2 linked regions of the Homo sapiens genome follow. The protein of the gene in region 2 purifies or fractionates together with the protein of the main gene of each other region. This does not show direct contact. Each region holds a gene or a part of one and is shown on either strand. Other genes may lie near its edges.

Region 1 (7,383 bases), on a different chromosome or scaffold from region 2:
TTCACGGGGATGGAGGGGAAGTTGTATGTGGAAGCCAAATGGCAGGGGCTAGGAAACCACAGTGACTTGCTAGACTGAAAAATCCCGCCAGCTGCAAGGCAGGGTGCTGAGGCTGGAGAGGCAGGCAGCAGTCAGAGGCCAGGGCCCTGAAACATGGGATTTATCTTGAGCCATAGGGATCCATGGGTGAGTTTTTATTTATTTAGAAATGGGGTCTTGCTCTGTTGCCCAGGCTGGAATATGGTGGCTGCAGAGTTCACTGCAGCCTTGAACTCCTGGGATCAAGAGATTCTCCCACCTCAGCCTTCTGAGTAGCTTGGACCATCATGCCAGGCTAAATTTTAAAATTTTTTGTAGAAACAGGGTTTCTACAAAGCCCTATGTTGCCCCGGGCTGGACTTGAACTTCTGGGCTCAAATGATCCTTCCACCCCAGCCTCCCAAAGTGGTGGGGTTACAGGCATGAGCCACTGCAGCTGGCCCATGAGTGGGTTTTGAGCTGGGAAGGGATGTTTCTGGTTGGAGTCCCTGAGAGGATTCATGTCCACGTGATTTCTTAAGAAAGTGCTCCCAGAACAGAGTAGGGGAAGTAGGAAGGGGAAGGGGAGGAAGCCAAGCAAGGATGTGACCTCAGGCAAAAGCCCAGAACCAGTCAATTATGCCTCAGGGTTGAAGGTAAGAGAGCTAAACCTCAGAGTTACTGATTAATTTCTCCACTTGGCAGTCACTGGTTAAAGTCAGTTGGGAAAGTGAACAGCTCTATTAACCTAAGGATGGTTTTTTAAGAAGAGCCTCAGGTGCTGGTGTGGGTCTTTGAAAGCACATCAAAGGTAATCTGGGCACACAGAAACAGCAAGAACTCCCAGAGGATCTGGGTGGAGCACCTACATTGTTTTTTTGTTTGTTTTGTTTCGTTTTGTTTTTTTAAACGGAGTCTCAATCTGTTGCTCAGGCTGGAGTGCAGTGGCTGGATCTTCGCTCACTGCAACCTCCGCCCCACCCCCCCCCAACCCCAGGTTCAAGCGATTCTCCTGCCTCAGCCTCCCGAGTAGCTGGGATTACAGGCGCGTGCCACCACACCCAGCTAATTTTTCTATTTTTAGTAGAGATGGGGTTTCACCACGTTGGCCAGGCTGGTCTCGAACTCCCAACCTCGTGATCCATCCACCTCAGCCTCCCAAAGTGCCAGGATTACAGGCATGAGCCACCATGCCTGTCGGATGTTTCTTGATTTGTAACCTCTGAGAGACCCATCCGCAGGCCCTGAGCATTCCACTCCTCTCAGAATTGTTTCCAAGCCCAATAACCACATTATAAATCAAACAAGATTCAGAGAATAGCCAAAGGGAATGTTTACTGAGTACCTACCCGGTCTGGCACTTTGCAATACACTTGTATATTGCTAAGACGGATAGTTCAACCGTTACATAGTTATATGATTGATAGTTATACATGCTTAACTGCTGGGGATTGGTTCCAGGACCGCCTGTGAATACCGAAATCTGCAGGCGCTCAAGTCCTACAGTTGGCCCTGCCAAACAGCAGATATGAAGTCAGCTCTTCAGATCTGTGGGTTCTGCATCCTTACAATATTTCCTTTCCTTTCCTTTTCTTTTCCTCCCTTCCTCCCTCTTTTTTCTTTTTCTTTTTTGAGATGGAGTCTTGTTGTGTCGGCCAGGTTGGAGTGCAGTGGCGCGATCTCGGCTCACTGCAACCTCCACCTCCTGGGTTCAAGCAGTTCTCCTGCCTCAGCCTCCCAAGTAGCTGGGATTACAGGCACACGCCACCACCCCTGACTGTTTTGTATTTTCAGTAGAGACGGGGTTTCACAATGTGGGCCAAGCTGGTTTTGAACTCCTGACCTCAAGTAATCCACCTGCTTCGGCCTCCCAAAGTGCTGGGATTACAGGTGTGAGCCACCGCGCCCAGTCTTTTTTTTTTTTTTTTTGAGGCAGAGTTTCACTCTTGTTGCCCAGGCTGGAGTGCAATGGCACAATCTCAGCTCACCACAACCTCTGCCTCCCAGGTTCAAGCGGTTCTCCTGCCTCAGCCTCCCGAGTAGCTGGGATTACAGGCATGCGGCCACCACGCCTGGCTAATTTTGTATTTTTAGTAGAGATGGGGTTTCTCCATGTTGGTCAGGCTGGTCTCGAACTCCCGACCTCAGGTGATCTGCCTGCCTCGGCCTCCCAAAGTGGTGGGATTACAGGAGTGAGCCACTGCGCCCAGCCTCCTTTTCTTTCCCCCCTTTTTTTTTGAGACAGGGTCTCTGTCACCCAAGCTGGAGTGCAGTGGAGGGATTATAGCTCACTCAGCCTCGACCTCCTGGGTTTAAGCGATCCCTCTGCCTCAGCCTCCTGAGTAGGTGGGACTACAGGTGCGGGCCCCGAGGCCCAGCTAATTTTTTTTTTCCCCCAAATTTTTAGTAGAAAGGAGGTCTCTATGCTGCCCAGGCTGGTCTTGAACTCCTGGCCTGAAGCGATCCTCCTGCTTGGATTCCTGAAGTGCGAGATTACAGGTGTGAGCCACCATACCTCAACACTGTATTTTCAACCCGCTCTTCGTTCAATCTCCAAAGGTGGGACATGCGGATATGGAGGGCCGATTGTGTATGGTTGGACCATACACATATAAATGGCTTTAACCTTTACTGACTCTCACAGAACCCTCAGTGCAGTGGCGTGATCTCAGCTCACTGCAAGCTCCACCTCCCGGGTTCACACCATTCTCCTGCCTCAGCCTCCCGAGTAGCTGGGACTACAGGGGCCCGCCACCACGCCCGGCTAATTGTTTTGTATTTTTTTTTAGTAGAGACGGAGTTTCATCGTGTTAGCCAGAATAGTCTCGATCTTCTGACCTCGTGATCCACCCGCCTAGGCCTCCCAAAGTGCTGGGATTACAGGCGTGAACCACCGCACCCGGCCTTTTTATTTTTTTTGAGATGGAGTCTGGCTCTTGGTCCCCAGGCTGGAGTGCAATGGCGGGATCTCGGCTCACTGCAACCTCCGCCTCCCGGGTTCAAGCGATTCTCCTGCCTCAGCCTCCCGAGTAGCTGGGACTACAGGTGCGTGCCACCACGCCCGGCTAAATTTTGTATTTTTAGTAGAGACGGAGTTTCACGGTGTTAGCCAGGATGGTCTCGATCTCCGCCCGCCTCGGCCTCTCAAAGTGCTGAGATTACAGGCGTGAGCCACCACGCCCCGCCCAACTCGTCCTTTCTTTAGACTTTATCCTGTGAGGGTGAATTATGGCCTGTCCCTGGACACACCCGTTCTGCTTTCCCCGCACCAACTGTATCCCAAATAGGGGAAGTAGTCTCTTCAACCTTCAAAAATGGGGCACTGGCTGGGCACGGTGGCTCACGCCTGTAACCCTAGCACTTTGGGAGGCCGAGGCGGGCGGATCACCTGAGGTCAGGAGTTCGAGACCAGCCTGGCCAACAGGGTGAAGCCCTCTCTCTACTAAAAATACAAAAAATAGCCGGGCGTGGTGGCGCGCGATTGTAATCCCAGCTATTCAGGAGGCTGAGGCAGGAGAATCGCTTGAACCCGGGAGGCGGAGGCTGCAGTGAGCCGAGATCGCGTCACTGCACTCCAGCCTGGGCGACAGAGCGAGACTCCATCTCAAAAAAAAAAAAGGGGGGGGGGCGGGGAGCGACATTAGGCCAGCGCGAGTGTGCGGCTCCAGGCCACCAGGGCGGCCGCTCTGGCTCTGCCCTGTTAAAGTGGGGGCAGCGCCCGCTGAAAATTGGCACATCTTGGCTTCCGCAGGTACCAGGGCCTTTAAAAAGGTTCAGCTGGCCGGGCACGGTGGCTCACGCCTATAATCCCAGCACTTTGGGAGGTTGAGGCTGGCAGATCACGAGGTCAAGAGATCAAGACTATCCTGGACAACATGGTGAAACCCCGTCTCTACTAAAAATACAAAAATTAGATGGGCGTGGTGGCGCGCGCCTGCAGTCCCAGCTACCCGGGAGGCTGAGGCAGAGGAATCGCTTGAACCCGGAGGCGGAGGTTGCAGTGAGCCGAGATCGCGCCTCTGCACTCCAGCCTGGGCGACAGAGCATGATTCCGTCTCAAAATAAATAAATAAATAAATAAATAAATAAATTAAAAAAAGGTTGAGTTGAGTCATCGCATGAGGTAAGTCTGTCTCCTCTCCTCACCCATAGGCTGCAGCCACAGGTCCGCACGGAAAACCAGGAGCTCCAAGACTGCCGCACACTCAACATCCAACTCGCGGGGCCGCGGGGACGGCCACAGAAGCCAATCGGCTCCTGCTACATCACAGACCCCGCCCTCAAACCTTGAGGAGCCCGCCCCACGCACTGCTGACCCGGAGCCAAAAGAACTGCGTGGCGTCCGATTCTGGCGTCACTTCCCTTCCCGCGATGGCGGCACAGGGAGCTGCTGCGGCGGTTGCGGCGGGGACTTCAGGGGTCGCGGGGGAGGGCGAGCCCGGGCCCGGGGAGAATGCGGCCGCTGAGGGGACCGCCCCATCCCCGGGCCGCGTCTCTCCGCCGACCCCGGCGCGCGGCGAGCCGGAAGTCACGGTGGAGATCGGAGAAACGTACCTGTGCCGGCGACCGGATAGCACCTGGCGTGAGGGCGGGGCCCAGGGCTGGGGGCGGGGCGGAGCTCAGGGCCAGGGGGTGGGGCGGGGCCTGAGGACAGGCTGTCAGTGAGGCCAAGATCCGGGGGCTGGGAGTGGAGAGGAGGAGGGGCGGGGCTTGAGGAAAGAACGCCGCGTTCCGGGCGCTGAGAAACCAGCCGGGTTGTGGGAGGCTGTTGACCTTGAATTATGCCGAGCGACGCCTACAAACCCACCGCTCAGGCCTTCACCAGGATTGTTCCCATTCCACTTCCTTGCCCAGTCTTAGGCTTCATTCCTTTTTCTTGCTAACGCTGCTTCCTCACCCTCTCTTGTCTCTGCGTCTTCTTTTTCCATTTGTCCCTGGCAGCCATCCGCAGAGAGAAGACCTTCCAGAAACAACAGGCTTCCCTTTCCTAAAGTTCTGCTGCCTTCTCTCATTTTCAAAATTAACCCCAAACTCCTTAGGGTGGCATTCATTTTTGTGACCTCTCCAGTTTCTAGCCAACACTAGGAAAGGGCATTGCCAGGCCAGAACACACTGTGCCCTCTGAAGACCACACGCCCTTTACCACCTGTGCCCTTTGCTTGGAATGCTTTTTCTTCCCTTTCTCCTTGTTTGCCTGCCTAGCTCCTACTCATCCTCTTAGCTTCATATCCTTTGTGATGTCATCCTTGATTCCCCTTCAGGCAAAGTGAGTGGTTCCCTTCTCTATGTTCCTGCAACATTTTTTTCCTACCTCAGTCATAGTTTTTGTAACATTATGTTGTAATTTTCTCTCTCTGTCTTCCTCCATCATACTGGGAACTTCTGGAGGGCAGCACTTCTTGTGATTCATCACTGTGTCCTCTGTACCCGGCAACAACACAGCATAGGGCCAGACACGTAGTGGTTGCCTTACTCATTTATTGAATGCTCTGCTAATTGTCAGGTGCGCTGCTAAAAATTTTGGAGGCATTAATTCACCTTCTAAGGTTGGTACTATTATCCCTTTTGTCTTTTTTTTTTTTTTTTTTTTTGAGACAGGATCTCGCTCTGTCACCCAGGTGGGATTGCCGTGGCACGATGACAGCTCACTGAAGCCTAGACCTTCTAGGCTCAAGTGATCCTCCCACCTCACCCTCTCAGAGTGTTGGGATTACTGGCATGAGCCACTGTGCCCAGCTGTTATCCCTTTTCACAGATGAAGAGACTGAGGCTCAGAAAGATGGAATAACTTGCTCAGTTACACATAGCTAGGAAGTAGGGAGCTGGAATTTTGTGTATTTTTTTTTGTTTGTTTGTTTGAGATGGAATCGCTCTCTGTTGCCAGGCTGGAGTGCAGTGGCGCCATCTTGGCTCACTGCGATCTCTGCCTCCCGGATTCAAGCGATTCTCCTGCCTCAACCTCCTGAGTAGCTGGGACTACAGTTGTGCGCCACCACACCCAGCTAATTTTTGTATTTTTAGTAGAGACGAAGTTTCACCATGTTGGCCAGGATGGTTTTGACCTCTTAACCTCGTGATTCACCCACCTCGGCCTCCCAAAGTGCTGGGATTACAGGCGTGAGCCACGATGCCCAGCCCTGGAATTATACATTAATGTAGGTTATCTTAATCCAGAGCCAGCACTCATGATCCCTGAACAAATGAACAACTGCGGGTATGTGGTAAAATGAGCATTGAATTTAGAGTCAGACTTAAATTCAGTTAAGTATTAGCTCTTACCACTTTTCAAATCTGTGACCCTAGGTAAGCCTCAGTTTTGTTCTGTTTTTTGGGGTTCTTTTTTTTGAGACAGAGTCTTGCTCTTGTCACCCAGGCCACAGTGCAGTGGTACAATCTCGGCTCACTGCAACCTCTGCCTCCCGGGTTCAAGCAATTCTCCTGCCTCAGCCTTGCCTCCCAGGTTCAAGCAATTTTCCTGCCTCAGCCTCCCGAGTAGTTGGGATTACAGGTGTGTGCCACCATGCCTGGCTTTTTTTTTTTTCGTCTTTTTGGTACAGATGGGGTTTTGCCATGTTGACCAGGCTGGTCTCAAACTCCTGGCCTCAAGTGATCTGCCCATCTCGGCCTCCAGAAGTACTGGGATTACAGGTGTGAGCCACACACCCAGCCAGTTATTTTCTCATTCGTAAAATGAGAATAACAGCCTCAACCTGATCCACCTCACAGTTGTGGCAGTGATTGAGTAGAATGGCAGAGGTGGACCAGTGAGGTTAGCTGATGTGTGGCCCTGAACTCTGGAAACTGCTTCTCAGTGTGCAGGATTCCTTTTGTTCCAGCCTTACCTTCCTGATGACCCTAGCCTTTTTCCATCACAGATTCTGCTGAAGTGATCCAGTCTCGAGTGAACGACCAGGAGGGCCGAGAGGAATTCTATGTACACTACGTGGGCTGTGAGTGGCTTGGCACATCTGGGCGTGGGTGCAGGGAGTTGGCTGCCCTGGCAGCACTCTTATGGCCCATACTTACAGTTAACCGGCGGCTGGACGAGTGGGTAGACAAGAACCGGCTGGCGCTGACCAAGACAGTGAAGGATGCTGTACAGAAGAACTCAGAGAAGTACCTGAGCGAGCTCGCAGAGCAGCCTGAGCGCAAGATCACTCGCAACCAAAAGCGCAAGCATGATGAGATCAACCATGTGCAGAAGGTCCGGATCCCTTCCCATCCACGGGCCCAGGAGGCCCAGCTTCTCTGCCAGTTCCCTTGGGTCTCTCGGGCCCCAGTGCCAAAACCATAGCAAATCCCATTTCTTAAGCTCCTGTAGTGTGTCAGGGACTTTACCTACTTCCTCTTACTTACTTTTCATAG
Region 2 (7,021 bases):
ATAAAAATCACTGGAGGTCTGTCTGAGCAGTACCTAATAAAATATAGTATACTGAAAGTGAACAGATACTTTGTCTCTTTCTTTGGCTGCTTGATACTTTATCTGTGTACTGCCGTACAGTGCACCCTTAAAGTATTCTACACCAGTGCTTCTCAAACTTGAATGTGCATGTAAGTCACCCAGGGGTCTTGTTGAAATGCTGATTCTGATTTGGTAGATCTAGGATGGGACCTGAATGCATTTCTGATTTGCAGGTGATGCTGATGTTACTGAACTACACTTTTAGTAGTGAGGTTTCATACACGAAGACAAAGTTTCTCTGTGAAAATAGGAAGGTGGTGGTTAGCCTTATATTTTTTTATTTTATCTTTATCCAGACACACATCCCTTAAAAGTTTGTACAAGGCCATAGTCCCCTTTATTAGTTATACTCAATTAGTTATTCTAGCACATAGCTTTTTAAATATTGGCCAAAACTGGCTGGGCACGGTGGCTCATGCTTGTAATCCCAGCACTTTGGGAGCTGAGGCGGGCAGATCACGAGGTCAGGAGTTCGAGACCAGTCTGGCTAACACAGTGAAACCCTGTCTCTACTAAAAATAGAAAAATTACCTGGGTGTGGTGGCAGGCACCTGTAATCCCAGCTACATGGGAGGCTGAGGCAGAATACTTGCTTGAACCCGGGAGGCGGAGGTTGCAGTGAGCCAAAATTGCACCACTGCACTCCAGCCTGGGCCACAGAGTGAGACTCTGTCTCCAAAAAAAAAAAAAAAAAAAAGGCCAAAACTTCTCCAGGAGTTTGGTTTCTGTGTGTATATATATATATTTTGGGTGGGGACAGGGTCTCATTCTGTCACCCAAGCTGGAGTGCAGTGGTGTGATCACGGCTTACTGCAGCCTCAACCTTCTGGGCTCAAGCGATCCTCCCCTCAGCCTCTTGAGTTTCAGGGACCACTGGCACGTGCCACCACACCTGGCTAATTTTAAATTTTTTGTAGAGATGAGATCTTGCCATTTTGCCCAGGTTGGTCTTGAACTTCTGGGCTCAAGCAGTCCTCCACCTTAGCTTCCCAAAGTGTTGGGATTATAGGTGTGAGCTGCCATGCCTGGCTATTGCCAAATTTAAATGGTTACATATTTCTTACTTGAATGTGAACATAATTATTGATATAGAATCATTCTAATAAATACTGCATAGCCAGCTTGTCTGTCTGGTTCCTCATCCTACCATGAGTAGGGAGTCTGTGATACCCCAAATCAGTGGGTCACAGGTGTTGGAATTTCCAAAGAGTCCTTCTTGGTTTTCTGGGTTCTGGAAATGGGCCAGGAAAAGCCAGGATAAAGCTATGTTCCCCGACCTCGAATGGAAGCTTCTGGCTTTCTCTAAATGGGTGCTCCAGAAAGACAAATGCTGGGGAGAAGATGATATTCTTTGATGGTGATCATGCTTTATGATGATCTTTCTCCTTTTGTACCCACATGTCTAATCTATTCTAAGTCTCAAGTGGGTTTTTCCTTTTTTCAAAAAATTTTTTTGGAGACAAAGACTACCTCTGAAAGTGTTTTTCCTTTCTAAGTGTGTTGGATCATCTGTACCTATTTCCCTGGCTGTCACCTGTCTGGCCCTCTTCCACGTGATCCTGTTGCCAGCCCTAATCAGGACAAACCTGAATGACTAGACTATTTTGTGTCCCTGTCCTCCTCCAACCCCTATTCCTCACATGAGTGTCAGATCCTATTCAGTAACGGATTTGATCTGGATTTGGCTCTAGTCCTAGCTCTTCCATTTACTGTGAGACCTCAGGCAAGTCACTTAATGCTATGGGCCTGCTTCTCCCCATTTGTAAAATGAGGGGCTGATGATCTGCAATGTCCACCCTGGCTGAATCTTGGTCGCTACCTTGCTTAGAAACCCCATTGCCTGTGGTAGCTTGTTGCAGCAGATCTGATTTCTTTCATGTGCTCCCTTGGGCAGCCTGCCAGTTATTCCCTTGTCCAAGTCACTTCTGCCATTATCTTTTTTTCTAGCTGAGGCAGCCAGCTTGTTCTCAACCCAACTTCAGCGTTCTTCTTGCTTCCATGTCTTCTTCCAGTTCCATGCTGTATTTCATTCAGAACTACCTGAAATCCTCAAAGAAGTCTTCCTGAGTTCTCCATTCAATGTTTGTGACTTCTCTGCCTTACCAAGAAGGAGTCTGTACCTTATATACCCCGTATTTACTTGTCAGTTCTCTTATCTAATGTATACTTAAAAAGGGACTTCATTTCCTCCATACCACAGCTTTGTTTTTTGGTTTGAATTAGCAGGGCAGGTGGCATGAAATTTAAAGAGGAAGCAAGCAGGTTGTTTGCCTTTGGCTGGGATTTGGGGAAAGTATGAGATGTAATGTTTTTAGTCCCCTTCCCCAAGATCTCCTGTATCTGTGGGAATCAGTTGCCTGGTATGTCTTCCTGGATTGTAAAGGTGCTTAAACTTCCTTTCTGAAGTTTGAAAGTGTATCCTAAGTGCAAATACCATTTGACAATTACTCGTGGTTGGGTGGGTGCAGTGGCTTACGCCTGTAATCCCAACACTTTGGGAGGCCAGAGTGGGAGGATTGCTTGAAGCCAGGAGTTCAAGACCAGCCTGGGCAACAAAGTGAGATTCCTGTCTCTACTCCCCCACCAAAAACAAAAAAGTAGTCAGGCATGGTGGTGCGTGCTTGTAGTCCCAGCTCCTTGGGAGGCTGACGAGGGAGTTCAGAGTCTGCAGTGAGCTAGGATTGTACCACTGCACTACAGCTGGGTGACAGCACGAGACCCCATTGCTTCCAAGTGCTCTTCTAGGAACACACAGCCACAAAACCCAGAACAAGGAATTGTTAAGGATAATGATAAGAAATCTGTATTTCAAATAACTTAACAAATGAATAAAACCAACAGTTCTTTGAGAGCACCTGATTATTGTCAAAGACAGTTGCTGAGGGGGCTTGGAAGTCAGGACTTAAAGGTATATTTAACCTCTGGAGTTTTCTTCTTTCATCATCTTCCTAAGAAATAATAGGGAGGATGTTTACATTTTTCTTGATAAAGTCTTTTTATTAATTTTATTTATTTATTTATTTTGAGAAAGGGTCTTGCTCTGTTGCCTAGGCTGGAGTGTAGTGGCGCAGTCTTGGCTTACTGCAACCTGTGCATCCTGAATTCAAGCGATTCTTGTGCCTCAGCCTCCTGAGTAGCTGGGATTATAGGTGCGCACCACCATGCCCAACTAATTTTTTGTAGTTTTAGTAGAGACAAGGTTTCACTATGTTGGTTAAGCTGGGACATTTTTCTTGATAAACATTCTTTAAACCAAAATGTATGCTTAGTCAAGATCCTTGATTGGATTATGAGCCTAGAGAAAAGGAGGGTGATGTCTTTGTCTAATCCATCTTTGCCAGTGACTGCCCCTTACAGGCTATTGACTATAGGGTAACCTAATGAAAATTGAGACAGGCACTGTGGCTCACGCCTGTAATCCCAGCACTTTGGGAGGCCAAGTCGGATGGATCACCTGAAGTCAGGAGTTCAAGACCAGCCTGGCTAACACACAGTGAAACTCCGTCTCTACTAAAAATACAAAAAATTAGTCAGGCGTGGTGGCAGGTGCCTGTCATCCCAGCTACTAGGGAGGCTGAGGCAGGAGAATGGCTTGAACCCGAGAGGCAGAGGTTGCAGTGAGCCGAGATTACACCACTGCGCTTCAGCCTGGGCAACAAGAGTGAAACTGTGTCTCAAAAAAAAAAAAAAAAAATTGAACCCTTAATTTGTAATAATGCTTTGACAACTTTGCTAGATCTTGGGCTAGGTCCTACCTGGACCTTCCTCTCTTTTGCCAAATAATGGAACTAATGAGCTGGCAGAAATCCTGTACAATTTTAGAAGCCTAATATGAGTGACTAAATGTAAATAGGACAGTTTTAGGAAAGAGTGGTGGAGCCTGAATCAGTGAACTTTGGGGAAGGAGCAAGAGGAGGGGCTTGGGATTTAAACAAAGGGTTTTTTTTTGTTTTGTTTTGTTTTTTGTTTTTTTTTTGAGGTGGAGTCTCACTTCGTTGCCCAGGCTAGAGTACAATGGTGCAATCTCGGCTCACTGCAACCTCTGCCTCCCGGATTCAAGTGATTCTCCTGCTTCAGCCTCCCAAGTAGCTGGTACTACAGGTGTGTGCCACCTCACCCTGCTAATCTTTTATATTTTTGGTAGAGACTGGCTTTCATCATATTGGCCAGGCTGGTCTCGAACTCCTGACCTCATGATCCGCCTGCCAGGGCCTCCCAAAGTGCTAGGTTTACAGGTGTGAGCCACTGCGCCTGGCCTAAACCAAGGTTTTTATTCAGTGATAGTTTATTCCATGTCAGGAACATAATTCTCAGATTTTAAAGGCTGACTTCCAGGTATCTTAGAAGGATATTTGGGGGTCTCTGTCCTAGTAGAGACCTGATTTTCAAGAGGTCTCTTTCTCATATGGAAAAAGTCCATAGCTGGTGGATTGACATTCCTTTCTTTCTTTTTTTTTTTTTGTTGAGGCGGAGTCTCACTCTGTCGCCCAGAAGTGCAGTGGTGCAACCTCGGCACACTGCAACCTCTGTCTCCTGGGTTCAAGCAATTCTCCTGCCTCAGCCTCCTGAGTAGCTGGGATTACAGGTGCCCGCCACCATGCCTGGGTAATTTTTTGTATTTTTAGTAGAGATGGAGTTTCACCATGTTCGCCAGGCTAGTCTTGAACTCCTGACCTCAAGTGATCCACCCGCCTCGGCCTCCCAAACTGCTGGGATTACAGGCGTGAGCCACTGTGCCCGGCCAATGCCTTTCTTGCTTCTACAGGTGCACAGGTGTTGGGATTTCGAGGTTGTGGAAACTTGGTCTGGAAATGTGGGCATTTTACAATAATGATAACTATAGCTAGCATTTTTGGAGCACTGTCTTAAATGTCATTGAATCCTTACATCTGACCTATTATCCTGTCCTAACAGAGGAGGAAACTGAGATGAGTAATTTGTCCAAGGTCATTTGGCTAATAAGCAGGGCCTCGATTGGAGTCCAGGTTTCTTTGCCTCCTGTCCCAGTGCTCTTACATCCCTCTCTCTCTAGCTAACGTGCTTTTTCCCCTAGAAATTTGAGTAAGTCATTTTAACTACAAATCAAACAGGTGGCAGCCTGGAAACCAGCACTGAGGCACTTTGCCACCCTCACCCCAGATTTCTTTTTTTTTTTTTTTTTTTTTTGGGACGGAGTCTCACATTGTTGCCCAGGCTGGAGTGCAGTGGCACAATCTCAGCTCACTGCAAGCTCCGCCTCCCGGGTTTACGCCATTCTCCTGCCTCAGCCTCCTGAGTAGCTGGGACTACAGATGCCCTCCACGATGCCCGGCTAATTTTTTGTATTTTTAGTAGAGACAGGGGTTTCGCCATGTTAGCCAGGATGGTCTCGATCTGCTGACCTCATAATCCATCCGCCTCGGCCTCCCAAAGTGCTAGGATTACAGGCATGAGCCACCATGCCTGGCTCATTCTTTTTTCTTTTTTTTCTTTTCTTTTTTTTTTTTTGAGACAGAGTCTGACTCTGTCTCCCAGGCTGGAAGGCAGTGGCATGATCTTGGCTCACTGCAGCCTCCGCCTCCCGGGTTCAAGTGATTCTCCTGCCTCAGCCTCCTGAGTACCTGGGATTACAGGCGAACACCACCACACCCGGCTAATCTTTTATATTTTTAGTAGAGACGGGGTTTCACCATGTTGCCCAGGCTGGTCTTGAACTCCTGATCTCAGATGATCCACCAGCCTTGGCCTCCCAAAGTGCTGGGATTACAGACATGAGCCACTGGTGCCTGGCCCTTTTTTTTTTTTTTTTTTTTTTGAGATGGAGTTTCACCTTGTAGCCCAGGCTGGAGTGCAATGGCACGATCTTGGCTCACTGCAACCTCCGCCTCCCGAGTTCAAGTGATTCTCTTACCTCAGCCTCCCAAGTAGCTGGGATTACAGGCATGTGCCAACACGCCTGGCTAATTTTCTGTTGTTAGTAGAGATGGAGTTTTACCATGTTGGTCAGTCTGGTCTCGAACCCCTGACCTCAGGTGCTCCACCCACCTCGGCCTAAAGTGCTGGGATTACAGGCGTGAGCAAGATTTTATTCTTTTTTTTTTTTCTGAGATGGATTCTTGCTCTGTCACCCAGGCTGAAGTGCAGTGACACGATCTTGGCTCACTGCAACCTCCTTCTCTGGGGTTCAAGTGATTCTCATGCCTCAGCCTCCTGAGTAGCTGGGATTATAGGCCTGCACCACCACATCCGGCTAATTTTCATATTTTTGATAGAGACGGGTTTCACCGTATTAGCCAGGTTGGTCTCCGCCCGCCTCAGCCTCCCAAAGTGCTGGGATTACAGGCGTGAGCCACTGTGCCTGGCCTTCATTCTTGACCATGCAAAACATCCTTTAATTGTAGAAGCCCAGTTCTCCCAACTCAAGCTGCCTTTCTACATTTTTCTTTCTTCTTCAATTTTTGTTGTTGTTGTTGTCGTGGTCAGATACACATAATATAAAATTTGCCATTTTAACCATTTTTAAGTTATATAGCTTACTGGTATTAAATAATGTTGTGCAACCATCACCACTCTCCATCTCCGTAACTCCTCAAAATTGAAACTCTGGGCCGGGTCCAGTGGCTCATGCCTGTAATCCCAGCACTTCGGGAGGCTGAGGCAGGTAGATCACTTGAGGTCAGGAGTTCGAGGCCAGCCTGGCCATCATGGCAAAACCCCATCTCTACTAAAAATACAAAAATTAGCTGGGCGTGGTAGCACATGCCTGTGATCCCAGCCACTAGGGAGCCTGAAGCAGGAGAACTGTTTGAACGCGGGGGCGGGTGGAGGTTGCACTGAGCCAGGATTGCTGCACTGCACTCCAGCCTAGGTGACAGAGCGAGACTCCATCTCAAAAAAAAAAAAAATTATAACTCTGTACCCATTAAACACTGACTCCCTCTTTCATGAACCTCCTCCCAGC

What was found. Proteins that work in one complex are often made in the same cells at the same time.
Region 1: the proteins of PHF20 (region 2) and KAT8 purify together in Homo sapiens (affinity purification with mass spectrometry; 4 studies listed by BioGRID and IntAct, with this or other methods). This does not show direct contact.

Annotation. Positions count from the first base shown.
Region 1 is NC_000016.10:31,113,293-31,120,675, forward strand, and holds the start of KAT8 (histone acetyltransferase KAT8), read left to right. Parts: upstream 1-4,371; 5' UTR 4,372-4,389; coding exon 4,390-4,600; intron 4,601-4,766; exon of another isoform or gene 4,767-5,564; intron 5,565-6,893; coding exon 6,894-6,968; intron 6,969-7,046; coding exon 7,047-7,222; intron 7,223-7,383.
Region 2 is NC_000020.11:35,774,997-35,782,017, forward strand, and holds part of PHF20 (PHD finger protein 20), read left to right. Parts: intron 1-7,021. UniProt on the Homo sapiens protein: Methyllysine-binding protein, component of the MOF histone acetyltransferase protein complex.